Regions from separate parts of the Homo sapiens genome. Here regions 1 and 3 are each linked to region 2. Evidence: fine-mapped expression QTL. A gene starts in region 2. Each other region holds a variant in brackets. All regions are shown on one strand. Distances are between the middles of the regions.

What was found. PIP is the estimated chance that this variant, and not a neighbour inherited with it, causes the effect.
Region 1: its variant is the best candidate, but not a certain one, in a credible set for the expression of PABIR3 in atrial appendage (GTEx, PIP 0.66).
Region 3: its variant is the best candidate, but not a certain one, in a credible set for the expression of PABIR3 in tibial nerve (GTEx, PIP 0.75).

The regions. Positions count from the first base shown.
Region 1 is chrX:134,829,114-134,833,353 of GRCh38, reverse strand. It overlaps PABIR3 (PABIR family member 3), which reads right to left. Exons shown (of 11, transcript NM_001388447.1): 4 at 4,072-4,128. Among named protein-coding and RNA genes, the nearest start is that of PABIR3, 24 kb to the right of the region's middle. RefSeq lists a silencer at 1,070-1,284. The variant A/G (reference allele first, on the strand shown) is at 1,703.
Region 2 is chrX:134,805,594-134,809,833 of GRCh38, reverse strand. PABIR3 (PABIR family member 3) reads right to left here and starts at 2,597. Exons shown (of 11, transcript NM_001388447.1): 1 at 2,493-2,597; 2 at 2,126-2,294. The coding sequence starts at 2,235. RefSeq lists enhancers at 739-1,695, 2,081-2,240.
Region 3 is chrX:134,836,653-134,840,892 of GRCh38, reverse strand. All of the region lies in intron 4 of PABIR3 (PABIR family member 3), which reads right to left. Among named protein-coding and RNA genes, the nearest start is that of PABIR3, 32 kb to the right of the region's middle. The variant C/T (reference allele first, on the strand shown) is at 1,786.

The DNA of each region.
Region 1 (4,240 bases), 24 kb before region 2:
CTTCTCATACCCATAAACTTGGGTAAAAAGATATGTCAGAAATTTAAAGCACTCTCTCCCACCCCTAAAAGAGAAGCAGATCGATGAAAAAGGATGTACAAAATGTGGATAATTGTTAAAGCTGGGTGTTAGGTACATGAAGATTCTATATTCCATGTTTTAAATTTTCCATTTAAAAAGATTTTTTTTAATGCAGTACTCTTGGCATTATGCATAATTACTTACAGTCATCCCTTGGTATATGTGGGGAATTGGTTCCAGCACCCCCCCACTGCAATACCAAAATCCACACATCCTCAAGTCCACAGTGGGCCTTCTGGAACCCGAGGATACAAAAAGTCACCCATACGTATAGGAGGGTTTCACATCACACGCCATTCAAATCCATGTTGTTCAAGTTTGGAGGTTCCTCAAAAAATGAAAAATAGAGTTACCATATGATCCAGCAATCTCACTCCAAGGTATATCACCCACCAAAAAGGAAATCAGCATATAGAAGAGATATCTACATTCCCATGTTTATTGCAGCACTGTTTACAATACCTAAGATTTGGAAGCAGCCTAAGTGTTCATCAACAGATGAATGGATAAAGAAAATGTGATACATATAAACAGTGGAGTACTATTCAGCCATAAAAAGAATGAGATCCAGGCTGGGCACGGTGGCTCACGCCTGTAATCCCAGAATTTTGGGAGGCTGAGGCAGGCAGGATCACCTGAGGTCAGGAGTTCGAGACCAGCCTGGGCAACATGGCGAAACCCTGTCTCTACAAAAAATACAAAAATTAGCCTGTCGTGGTGGCGTGGGCCTATAAACCTAGCTACTCAGCAGGCTGAGGCAGGAAAATCACTTGAACCTGGGAGGCAGAGGTTGCAGTGAGCTGAGATGGCGCCACTGTACTCCAGCCTGGGTGATAGAGCAAGACTGTCTCAAAAAAAAAAAAAAAAAAAAAAAAAAAGGGATCCAGTCGTTTGTAGCAACATGGATGAAACTGGAGGTCATTATGTTAAGTGAAATAAGCCAGGCACAGAAAGACAAACATCGCATGTTCTAACTTATCTTCTTTTTTCTTTTTTTTGAGACGGAGTCTCTCTCTGTCACCCAGGCTGGAGTGCAGTGGCGCGATCTCGGCTCACTGCAACCTCCGCCTCCCAGGTTCAAGTGATTCTTTAGCCTCAGCCTCCTGAGTAGCTGAGATTACAGGCACCCACCACGCACGGCTAATTTTTGTATTTTTGGTAGAGACGGGGTTTCACCATGTTGGCCAGACTGGTCTCGAACTCCTGACCTCAAGTGATCTGCCCACCTCAGCCTCCCAAAGTGCCGGGAATACAGGCGTGAGCCACTGCGCCCAGCCTCATGTTCTTGCTTATTTGTGGGAGGTAAAAATTAAAACACTTGAACTCATGGAGATAGAGATTAGAAGGATGGTTACCAGAGGCTGGGAAGGGTAAATGAGGGGTGGCGAGGAAGTGGGATGGTTAATGGGTACAAAAATATAGTTAGAAAGAACAAATAAGACTCAGTATTTGCTAGCACAACAGGGTGACTATAGTCAATAATAATTTAATTATACATTTAAAAATAACTAAAAGGATAATTGAATTGTTTGTAACACAAAGGATAAATGCTTGAAGGGATGGATACTCCATTTACCCTGATGTGATTATTACATGTTGCATACCTATATCAAAGTATCTC[A/G]TGTACCCCATGGCACCTGTAAAAATTAAATTAATTACTTTTTAAAAACCCAGGTTGTTGAAGGGTCAGTTGTAATTCTTTTCATCCTCAAAACGATTCTATGAGATAGCCAATATTATTCCCCCCATTTTGAAAAATCAATGCCCTTATTAATGTTGTTAAAGTGAAAGTTCAGAAGGTAATGGGGAGAGAACCAGACATTTCTGTTTTGCACTTAAAAGGTTAAGTTTAATAGGGACAAAGAAGTCAGTCAAAGAATGCATGTAAAGAAATATGCAACTTATGCCAGGCACAGTGGCTCACCCCTGTAATCCCAGCACTTTGGGAGGCTGAGGTGAGCAGATCACTTGAGGTCAGGAGTTCGAAACCAGCCTGACCAACATGGTGAAACCCTATCTCTACTAAAAATACAAAAAAATTAGCCGGGTGTGGTGGCACGCACCTGTGATCTCAGCTACTTGGGAGGCTGAGGCAGGAGAATCCCTTGAACCCAGGAGGTGGAGGTTGTAGTGAGCTGAGACAGCACCACTGCACTCCCGCCTGGGTGACAGAGTGAGACTCCATCTCAAAAACAAAGAAAAAAAAAAAAGAAATATGCAACTTAAGATATCTATCAGACCATTAAACTGCTGAAAATAAGTCTTAATTTTCCATTCAATCAGTATCCAGATTGAAAATTAATGTTTTTCTCTTTTCCCATCTCATTCATTTTCTACTTATATTTCATTTTTAAATATTTATAATACATATTATGTTACTATGGAAATAAACTGCATTAAACTTATATTCCTAACCAGTGTAAATTAGGATTTATATCAAGCTTCACCAGCAAATAGCAACACATAACCCATTTTCAAATATTTGGTTTAATTTAGGAGAAGCAAAGAAACATATTGCACAGATAAACACGAGGTCACTTTACTCCTTTGAACTTGTTTCATTCCTTAAGAATTTCTAAAATAGCTACATACAAAGACAGGAGTAAAAGCAAGTTTTACCCACTAAAAAGTAAAAAAAACAGCCTGGCACGGTGGCTCACGCCTGTAATCCCTGCAATTTGGGAGGCCGAGGTAGGCAGATCACCTGAGGTCAGGAGTTCAAGACCAGCCTGGACAACATGATGAAACCCCGTCTCTACTAAAAATACAAAAATTAGCCGGGCGTGGTGGCAGGCGTCTGTAATCCCAGCTACTTGGGAGGCTTAGGCAGGAGAATCGCTTGAACCTGGGAGGTGGAGGTTGCAGTGAACCAAGATGGAGCCACTGCACTCCAGTCTGGGCAACAGAGCGAAACTCTGTCTCAAAAAAAAAAAAAAAAAAAAAAAAAGGAAAAAAACCATTTTTACCATACTTTCTTGCTAGTGGATAAGCTGACCTTAGGGAAGCCATGCCACAGGGGTGAAAGGGAGAGAGGGAAAAGAAGCAAGAGTTGGAGGACTAATAACTAGGATTACAAGATGGTATTATGGGCTTTGTGCACTGAAACAGGGAAAGGGGAGCTGGAAAATAATCCAGTAATCTGGGGCCAAATCTTGGCTCTGACATTCACCAACTCTGGAGATTGGGTAAATTGCTAAATTTCTCCCCTTTTTAGTTTCTGACCTTATAAAGTTGTTGTAAGATAAAATGAGACCACAAATGTAAAGTACCTGTTAGTACTAAGTGAATAATAAGTTAAGCCTCTCTTGGGGGAAAAAATGTCTGCTTGTAGCTGGGTCAAAGAAAAAAATACCACCTGTGGGGTAGTGGTGATTTGATCTTTTGAGTTCTGTGGCTAATCCTTGGATAATTAAAAGGTTGAATTCTGTATTATGCTTGTGCTATTAAGCATGCATGTGCACATGAGTGCACACCCACCCACCCACATACACCCTCCCAACCACATACACAAACACAAACACACAAACACAGAGACGTGCATGCGTGCACATGGGCACAAAATATAAACCAGTGAGGTACAATGTGTCCCTGAACTCAGATCACTAAGAACAAAACAATAGCATGAAGGCCATTTTATCTGTCAAAAAAACTCATCTGAGGGTTAAAAAAATAATAACTACAGTTATTATGAAGCTGAAAATTAATTTTTATGTGTAGCATTCCACTTTCAGATCCCTGGAAGAAAGAAGCTAGACTCAAGGTATAAGAGTATGCAGTATTTCTAGAAATTATTAATTAATTAAAATAGCTAATAAGCCAAAAAAAGTGCTTCTTAGTTTTGTTTTTTTTTTGAAGAAATCATTCCTAGAAATAAAAACTTAATATTACACGTGACCTCACTTAGAATTACTGAAACATAGGTATTTTCACAAAGAAAAATAAAATTTACTTTTTTAAATGAACAGCTGTCAGTTTGGAAAGTCTTCTTACCTGTTTGATTTGATGAAGGCGGCTGATGGAACCATGAAAGGGAGGAGGTGGCAACAACTGAAATTTAAAATATAGAAGTCAAGCTTGCTTTAATGTTTGTGATTAATTACATCTCAACATTAAGTCAATGTTGAATTACCTAAAATATTTATTTAGTGTCTTATGCATG
Region 2 (4,240 bases):
TCATTTAGAGTTAATCAGCTTAGGTATTGGTTAGTAGTGGCCAGAACAGTAGTTTAGGAGTCAGGAAACAGAGCTTCCTAGTACTGGCTCTGCCACTAAACGTCATTTTGGAGATTTATGGGCCTCAGTTTCCTCATATGTTAAACAAGGAGGGTAAAGCTGGTCTCTGAATCCCTTCCTGATAGTCTATGGTACTGTGAATTACAACTATCAATTAGTATGATGCAACAAAAGGTGAAGAGCAAAGTTAGTAACATATGTAGTGAATGCATTTTTCAGACATTTTTACGGTATCTAGAAAACCTTATAATACTGAAATGTGAAATCCAACATCTCATTTTAAAAGTCTAGTTTAAGAAGTAAGATTTAGGCCAGGCGCAGTGGCTCACGCCTGTAATCCCAACACTTTGGGAGGCCAAGGTGGGCGGATCACAAGGTCAGGAGATCAAGACCATCCTGGCTAACACGGTGAAACCCCGTCTCTACTAAAAATACAAAAAATTAGGTGGGCGTGGTGGCGGGTGCCTGAAGTCCCAGCTACTCGGGAGTCTGAGGCAGGAGAATCGCTTGAACCCGGGAGGCAGAGGTTGCAGTGAGCCGAGATCATGCCACTGCACTCCAGCCTGGGCGACACAGTGAGACTCCGTCTTAAAAAAAAAAAAAAAAGGAAACAAGATTTAGTAATCCCAGATCTTCAGAAATACAGTTAACCATCATTTAGTGTAGTGTTTCTAAATCCTTTTTTCATTATTGACCCTCTAAAAAGCCTTTTTAGACATTTTTCCCCTAATTGCTCCCCCTTCGTGAAATTTTAATAACACATATATAGTATATATCTGTGTACATACTGTATGTATATCTGCGCTTTATACATAAAAAGAGTAAAAATTTTTCACACTCCCCCAAGAACTATTTTCTCTTCCCCTTGGGGGAAGTATCACCCAGTGAGAATGTGTAATTTAGGAGATCAAGCTTCTGTGGTACCAAAACTTTCTGCTCCAATAAAAAATAGGTGTAGGCCAGGAGCAGTGGCTCACGTCTGTAATACCAGCACTTTGGGAGGCTGAGGCAGGCGGATCCCCTGAGGCCAGGAGTTCGAGACCAGCCTGGCCAACATGGTGAAACCCTGTCTCTACTAAAAATACAAAAAATTAGGCCGGGCACGGTGGCTTACGCCTGTAATCCCAGCACTTTGGGAGGCCGAGGCGGGCGGATCACGAGGTCAGGAGATCAAGACCATCCTGACTAACACGGTGAAACCCTGTCTCTACTAAAAATACAAAAAATTAGCCGGGAGTGTTGGTGGGCGCCTGTAGTCCCAGCTACTTGGGAGGCTGAGTCAGGAGAATGGCGTGAACCCGGGAGGTGGAGCTTGCAGTGAGCCGAGATCACGCCACTGCACTCCAGCCTGGGCGACAGAGTGAGACTCCGTCTCAAAAATAAATAAACAAATAAATAAAAAATAAAAATACAAAAAATTACCAGGTGTGGTGGTGGGCGCCTGTAATCCTAGCTACTAGGGAGGCTGAGGCATGAGAATTGCTTGAAGCCAGGAGGCGGAGGTTACAGTAAGCTGAGATCGTGCCAATGCACTCCAGCCTGGGCGACAGAGCAAGACTCCGTCTCAAAAAAAGACAAAAAAAAAAATGTAAAAAAGTCCAAAGCTTATTTGCTTGACAACCATTTCCATTCAAGCGGCTGGAGGTGAAGGTCAGAGGTGACAAAGCAGCTGAAATGACAAATATTACAGTCATGGCAGAAGATCTGGAGGTGAGTGGGGGAGGATACTAAGTTTCTTCAAAGGAGTGGGTAAGAAATGGGTTGAAGTTAGAAAAAAGCCGTGCTCCACACCAACTGGCTGCTACTTTCGGGTCCGAGTGGACTATCAGGGGAGGATGTTCAGATTCAGATGTTTGTCAACCTCAGGGTGGGTGCGCGCTCCCCCTCAGGTCAGCCCGTCCCACTACCCCCACCCAAGGTTGAGGGTGGGATCTCCGGACACCAGGAACAAGGGAGTTACCTGCAGAACCTCAACAAATAAAGGGACGGGAATTCTATAGGAAATCACTTTCCCGAACACCTCCTCCCCACCGCTTGCCTCCTCCAGTATCTCAACCCGGCTCACCCAAGTCCATTGATCAAAGGGGCACTGTTGACTCTTCTCAGAATGTTGCCGTCTGCGGTAGTGGAACTCGGCAGCGACTTGAAACCTAGTTTCATTTTCTCCTGTGCCATGTCCGGGTCGAGGAATAAGTTCTCAAGGCTTTCCGGCTCCCGTCCACACAAGGACAAGTCTACTTAGTGGGCAGGTGATGTAAGGAGAGAGGCAAAGGGGAAAAAGAGAAGAGAGGAGAAAGCTCTTAGGCGAGTAGGGGTGCCCACCTTTGCAGCCCTAGCAGCCCTAACATCAGTGAACACAAAGTTAGGCAGAACTGGCTCCGAACCGCCTATCTCCCATGATCGGGGCCTCTAACGATGAGAAGATCCCCCACCTCCAAGTCTATAATGTAACTGGGGAATTTAATCTGTCACCGCCGCGAATCCTTCTCCATCTCTCTCAGCCCTGGCAACTCATGGTAAGCCTTTCCGGCCAAAACAAAAACTACAATCTGCCGCCTTTGACAATCAGTTGGGTCCCGCCCCTCAGAGCCTGCGATAAGCTATCAGCCGGACGACGCCTGTTGTGATGCAGGCAATGACGTCACTTCAGGCGCCTTAGTCAGCTTTGCCAGGGGCGCACGCGCAGTTAAGAAACCGCTTTATCCCCATGTCCTGCCCTCCTTCCTCTTTCCCCAATGCCCACTTACCGTGGTTGTGCCTCTACTCTTTTACTAACCCTGGCATGGTTTCCTTAAGCATTATTTAGAAATGAAAGCGTTGGGAGGAGTGAGGTCCTTCCTGCCCTATGCCTAATTCTCATTTTTCTTATCCCTTTATGACTGAGGCCAACAAGCTTCTAACCTCCTATGATGCATTTTTCCATCCTGTAACAGCAGACACACTACACCTTTGTAATTTTAGAAAAGCAAAAGTCTGAAAAAAAAAAAAAAAAAAAGATACTGCTACCTAAGTGCTTAGAGGCCACTTGGTCCCAAAGGGTCTTGCTAAGGTGCTAACCTAACTGAGCTCATTTGGCAAACGAATTACTGTTTTCAGTGTGGTTTCTTTCTTTCTTTTTTAAACCATAATCGTACAGTTTTTTGTTTTTTTTTTTTTGAGATGGAATTTCGCTCTTGTTGCTCAGGCTGGAGTGCAGTGGCCGCGATCTCGGCTCACTGCAACCTCCACCTCCCAGGTTCAAGCGATTCTCCTGCCTCAGCCTCCCGAGTAGCTGGGATTACAGGTGCTCGCCACCACGCCTGGTTAATTTTTGTATTTTAGTAGAGACGGGGTTTCACCATGTTGGCCAGGCTGGTCTCGAACTCCTGGACCTCAGGTGATCCGCCCGCCTCGTCCTCCCAAAGTGCTGGGATTACAGGCGTGAGCCACCGCGCCTGCCTCAGTGTGTATTTTTACATTATATATAATCTGGCTCCTCACAGCTATTCATATAAAAAATAAAGACCTCAGCTAATTTACAAAGATTTGAGTTAAAGCAGTGAGGCTTTTTTAAAAACAAATATCTCAGAATTTAGTATCAATGCAAATCAGTGTTTTCATTTCAGGTAGTATTAGAAGCTACATACATTCTAAGAATGCTGCCATGGCTCATATCGTTTTAAGAACTACTCTTTTAGAAATTTTCACCATCACTTAATGAGCCACACTGAGTACTGAAATCTTAACTCCATGCTAATAATTTTGTAAAACCACACATTTTAGTAACCATATAGAGAACTGGCAGACAAGGCAAATAAACCTAGTGAAATGGGAGTTATTAATTAAAATAGTCATAACACTGGTATAGCACTTTACGGATAACATTTTTTTTTTTTTGAGACGGAGTTTCGCTCTTGTTGCCCAGGCTGGAGTGCAATGGCGCAATCTTGGCTCACCACAACCTCCACCTCCCTGGTTCAAGCGATTCTCCTGACTCAGCCTCCAGAGTAGCTGGGATTACAGGCATGTGCCACCACTCCCAGCTAATTTTGTATTTTTAGTAGAGATGGGGTTTCTCCATGTTGGTCAGGCTGGTCTCGAACTCCCGACCTCAGGTGATCCACCCGCCTCGGCCTCCCAAAGTGCTGGGATTACAGGTATGAGCCTCCACGCCTGGCCTACAAAATGTTTTCACATACTT
Region 3 (4,240 bases), 31 kb before region 2:
GGTATTCCAAGCAGAAGAACCCATATGAACAAAAGTTTAGGAGAGGGAAAAAAATACAACAGATTTGGAGATAGTGAGACTACCTTGGCTGAAACTGAGTTTGTGCTACAAAGTAATGAGAGAGAAAACAGGAGAGGTAAGACAGGGCCAGTTTTACAGGTTCTTAAATAATCAAACAGTTTGAATTTAAAGAATTTGGGCAGAATCACGTCATTGTCAGGACCCCGGCTTTGGAGACAAACAGAACTGAGTCAAATCCCAGCTCTATAACCTACTACCTGTGCAAACTTAGGCAGGTGACGTCACCTGAGCGTCAGTTTCTTCATCCATATGAAGATGACGATAAGAATGAGGATGATGAGGTGGCTGTACAGTTCTCATCACACTGCCTGGCAAACAGTTCAGTGCTTAACACATATTAGCTATTTTTATTATTATTCAATAGGTAATGGGAAGCCATTGTGACATTTTGTATGGGGGGAAGAAAGTGAAAATGATGTTTTTTTTGTTTTGTTTTTGTTTTTTGTTTTTTTTTTTATTGATCATTCTTGCGTGTTTCTCGCAGAGGGGGATTTGGCAGGGTCTCAGGACAATAGTGGAGGGAAGGTCAGCAGATAAACAAGTGAACAAAGGTCTCTGGTTTTCCTAGGCAGAGGACCCTGCGGCCTTCCGCAGTGTTTGTGTCCCTGGGTACTTGAGAATAGGGAGTGGTGATGACTCTTAACGAGCACGCTGCCTTCAAGCATCTGTTTAACAAAGCACATCTTGCACCGCCCTTAATCCATTTAACCCTGAGTGGACACAGCACATGTTTCAGAGAGCACAGGGTTGGGGGTAAGGTCACAGATCTACAGGATCCCAAGGCAGAAGAATTCTTAGTACAGAACAAAATGAAAAGTCTCCCATGTCTACTTCTTTCTACACAGACACGGCAACCATCCGATTTCTCAATCTTTTCCCCACCTTTCCCCCCTTTCTATTCCACAAAACCGCCATTGTCATCATGGCCCGTTCTCAATGAGCTGTTGGGTACACCTCCCAGACGGGGCGGCTGGCCGGGCAGAGGGGCTCCTCACTTCCCAGTAGGGGCGGCCGGGCAGAGGCGCCCCTCACCTCCCGGACGAGGCGGCTGGCCGGGCGGGGGGCTGACCCCCCCACCTCCCTCCCGGACGGGGCGGCTGGCCGGGCGGGGGACTGACCCCCCCACCTCCCTCCTGGATGGGGCGGATGGCCGGGCAGAGGGGCTCCTCACTTCCCAGTAGGGGCGGCTGGGCAGAGGCACCCCTCACCTCCCGGATGGGGCGGCTGGCCTGGCGGGGGCTGACCCCCACCTCCCTCCCGGACGGGGTGGCTGCCGGGCAGAGACGCTCCTCACTTCCCAGACGGTGTGGCTGCCGGGCGGAGGGGCTCCTCACTTCTCAGACGGGGCGGCTGCTGGGCGGAGGGGCTCCTCACTTCTCAGACGGGGCGGTTGCCAGGCGGAGGGTCTCCTCACTTCTCAGACGGGGCGGCCGGGCAGAGATGCTCCTCACCTCCCAGACGGGGTCGCGGCCGGGCAGAGGCGCTCCTCACATCCCAGACGGGGCAGCGGGGCAGAGACGCTCCTCACTTCCTAGATGGGATGGCGGCCGGGAAGAGGCGCTCCTCACTTCCTAGATGGGATGGCGGCCGGGCAGAGACGCTCCTCACTTTCCAGACTGGGCAGCCAGGCAGAGGGGCTCCTCACCTCCCAGACGATGGGCGGCCAGGCAGAGATGCTCCTCACTTCCCAGACGGGGTGGCGGC[C/T]GGGCAGAGGCTGCAATCTCGGCACTTTGGGAGGCCAAGGCAGGCGGCTGGGAGGTGGAGGTTGTAGCGAGCCGAGATCACGCCACTGCACTCCAGCCTGGGCACCATTGAGCACTGAGTGAACCAGACTCCGTCTGCAATCCCGGCACCTCGGGAGGCCGAGGCTGGCAGATCACTTGCGGTTAGGAGCTGGAGACCAGCCCGGCCAACACAGCGAAACCCCGTCTCCACCAAAAAAATACGAAAACCAGTCAGGTGTGGCTGCGCGCGCCTGCAATCGCAGGCACTCGGCAGGCTGAGGCAGGAGAATCAGGCAGGGAGGTTGCAGTGAGCCGAGATGGCAGCAGTACAGTCCAGCTTCCGCTCGGCATCAGAGGGAGACTGTGGAAAGAGAGGGAGAGGGAGACCGTGGGGAGAGGGAGGGGGAGGGGGGAGGGGGGGAGGGGGGAGGGGGAGGGGGAGAGGGAGAGGGAGGAAAATGATGTTTTTTAAAAAAAAAAAATTTGGCCAGGCACAGTGGCTTGTGCCTGTAATCCCAGCACTTTGGGAGGCCGAGGTGGTTGGATCACGAGGTCAGGAGATCGAGACCATCCTGGCTAACACGGTGAAACCCCGTCTCTACTAAAATTAGCTGGGCGTGGTGGCAGGTGCCTGTAGTCCCAGCTACACGGGAGGCTGAGGCAGGAGAATGGCGTGAACCCAGAAGGCAGAGGTTGCAGTGAGCCGAGATTGCGCCACTGCACTCCAGCCTGGGCGACAGAGCGAGACTCTGTTCCAAAAAAAAAAAACATTTATCTTGGTCTTCATTGTGGAAGTTGGATAAACTGGGAGAAACAGAAAATCTACTGGGATATTATTTCAGTAATCTAGACCCATGGGACAGAAGAAGGAAGCAGCAGTGACAACAAAGAGGATATTGTCAAGGAAGAATTAGTAGGATTAGAAGCCTAATTGGATACAGTAGAAAAATAAGGAAGAACTGAAGAAAAATCAAGAGCTTTGAGTCTTAAACCTGTGACTATTTTGATACCATACAATGAGGTATCAAATCGAGAGCTTTGAGTCTTAAAACTGTGACTATTTTGATACCACACAATGAGGTACAGAAAATGAGGGAATTGGAAAAGGTAATTTAAGAAGATAATTAGTCTTTTAAAAGCAATGGAATAACAGTAAATTCAGCAAAATGTAATTGTTAGTATAGTTCTTCAATTTAATATTATATAGATAGTCTCCTCTAGTGTGAAACTCAAAGTATTTTGTAGTTCATTCGGTCAACAAGTACAGAGCAGGTAGTTTTGTGAAACTGAGATAGAATTCTGCTTAATATTCCTCCCACTGAAAGTTGGAGCATTAGCTAAAATCAGCTATTGAAGGTTGTTAGGAGAAGAGTGTTGACTCTTTTTCATTTATGTCTTGCCTATTTCCAAAATGGATTTGAGATGGTTTATAATAAAATAAGATTATTAAAATAAGTATAAAAGGTCAACAGCCATGCATTATAACTGTAAGAAGCAGAGTACAGTATACTAGAAACCTAGTTTAAGGAGAATTGTTATACTTGGATGTTAAAGTTAGCTTTCCATTTTTCAGGATACATGGTAAAAATGGGAACTGTAAGTTACCAACTTTTGCTCTCCGAGGAGACTACATCTGAAAGATTTTAGTTACTGAGTGCCTGCACAGTACCCAATAAAGGCTTGTTGAAAGAATGAAACAATCTGTAAACTAAAATCAAATTTAAATTTTTTTTTTTTGGAGAAGGAGTCTTACTTTGTCACACCAGCTGGAGTGAGTGCAGTGGTACAATCTCAGCTCACTGCAACCTCTGGTTCCCGGGTTCAAGCGATTCTCCTGCCTCAGCCTCCCGAGTAGCTGGGATTACAGGCATGCCTCACCAGGTCTGGCTAATTTTTATATTTTTAGTAGAGATGGGGTTTCTTCACGTTGGTCAGGCTGGTCTCGAACTCCTGACCTCAGGTGATCCACCCGCCTCGGCCTTCCAAAGTGCTGGGATTACAGGCGTGAGCCACCGTGCCCGGCCAGCAAATTAAAAAAAAAATTTTTTTAAAGACGGAGTCTTCTTATGTTGCCCAGGCTGGTCTTGAACTCCTGGCCTCAAGTGATCCTCCTGCTTTGGCCTCTCAAGTCACTGGAATTACAGGCACGAACCACCACGCCCAGCTCAATTTCTTCTTATTGATTTTTACTTAAGACACTACAGAGAAAGTTAAGTTGTTACTGGGTGCCAATGACTCATATCCTGTTTAACAAATCAGGAATTAAATATAAAGCTATATAACAAAAAACTGTGAGCAGACTGTTATGGGTTGAATTGTGTCCCCTCAAATTCCTGTGTTGAAGTCCTAATCCCCAGTGCCTCAGGATGTGACCTTATTTAGAGACAGAATATATTCAGAAGCAAGCAGATTAGGATGAGGTCATTAGGGTGGGC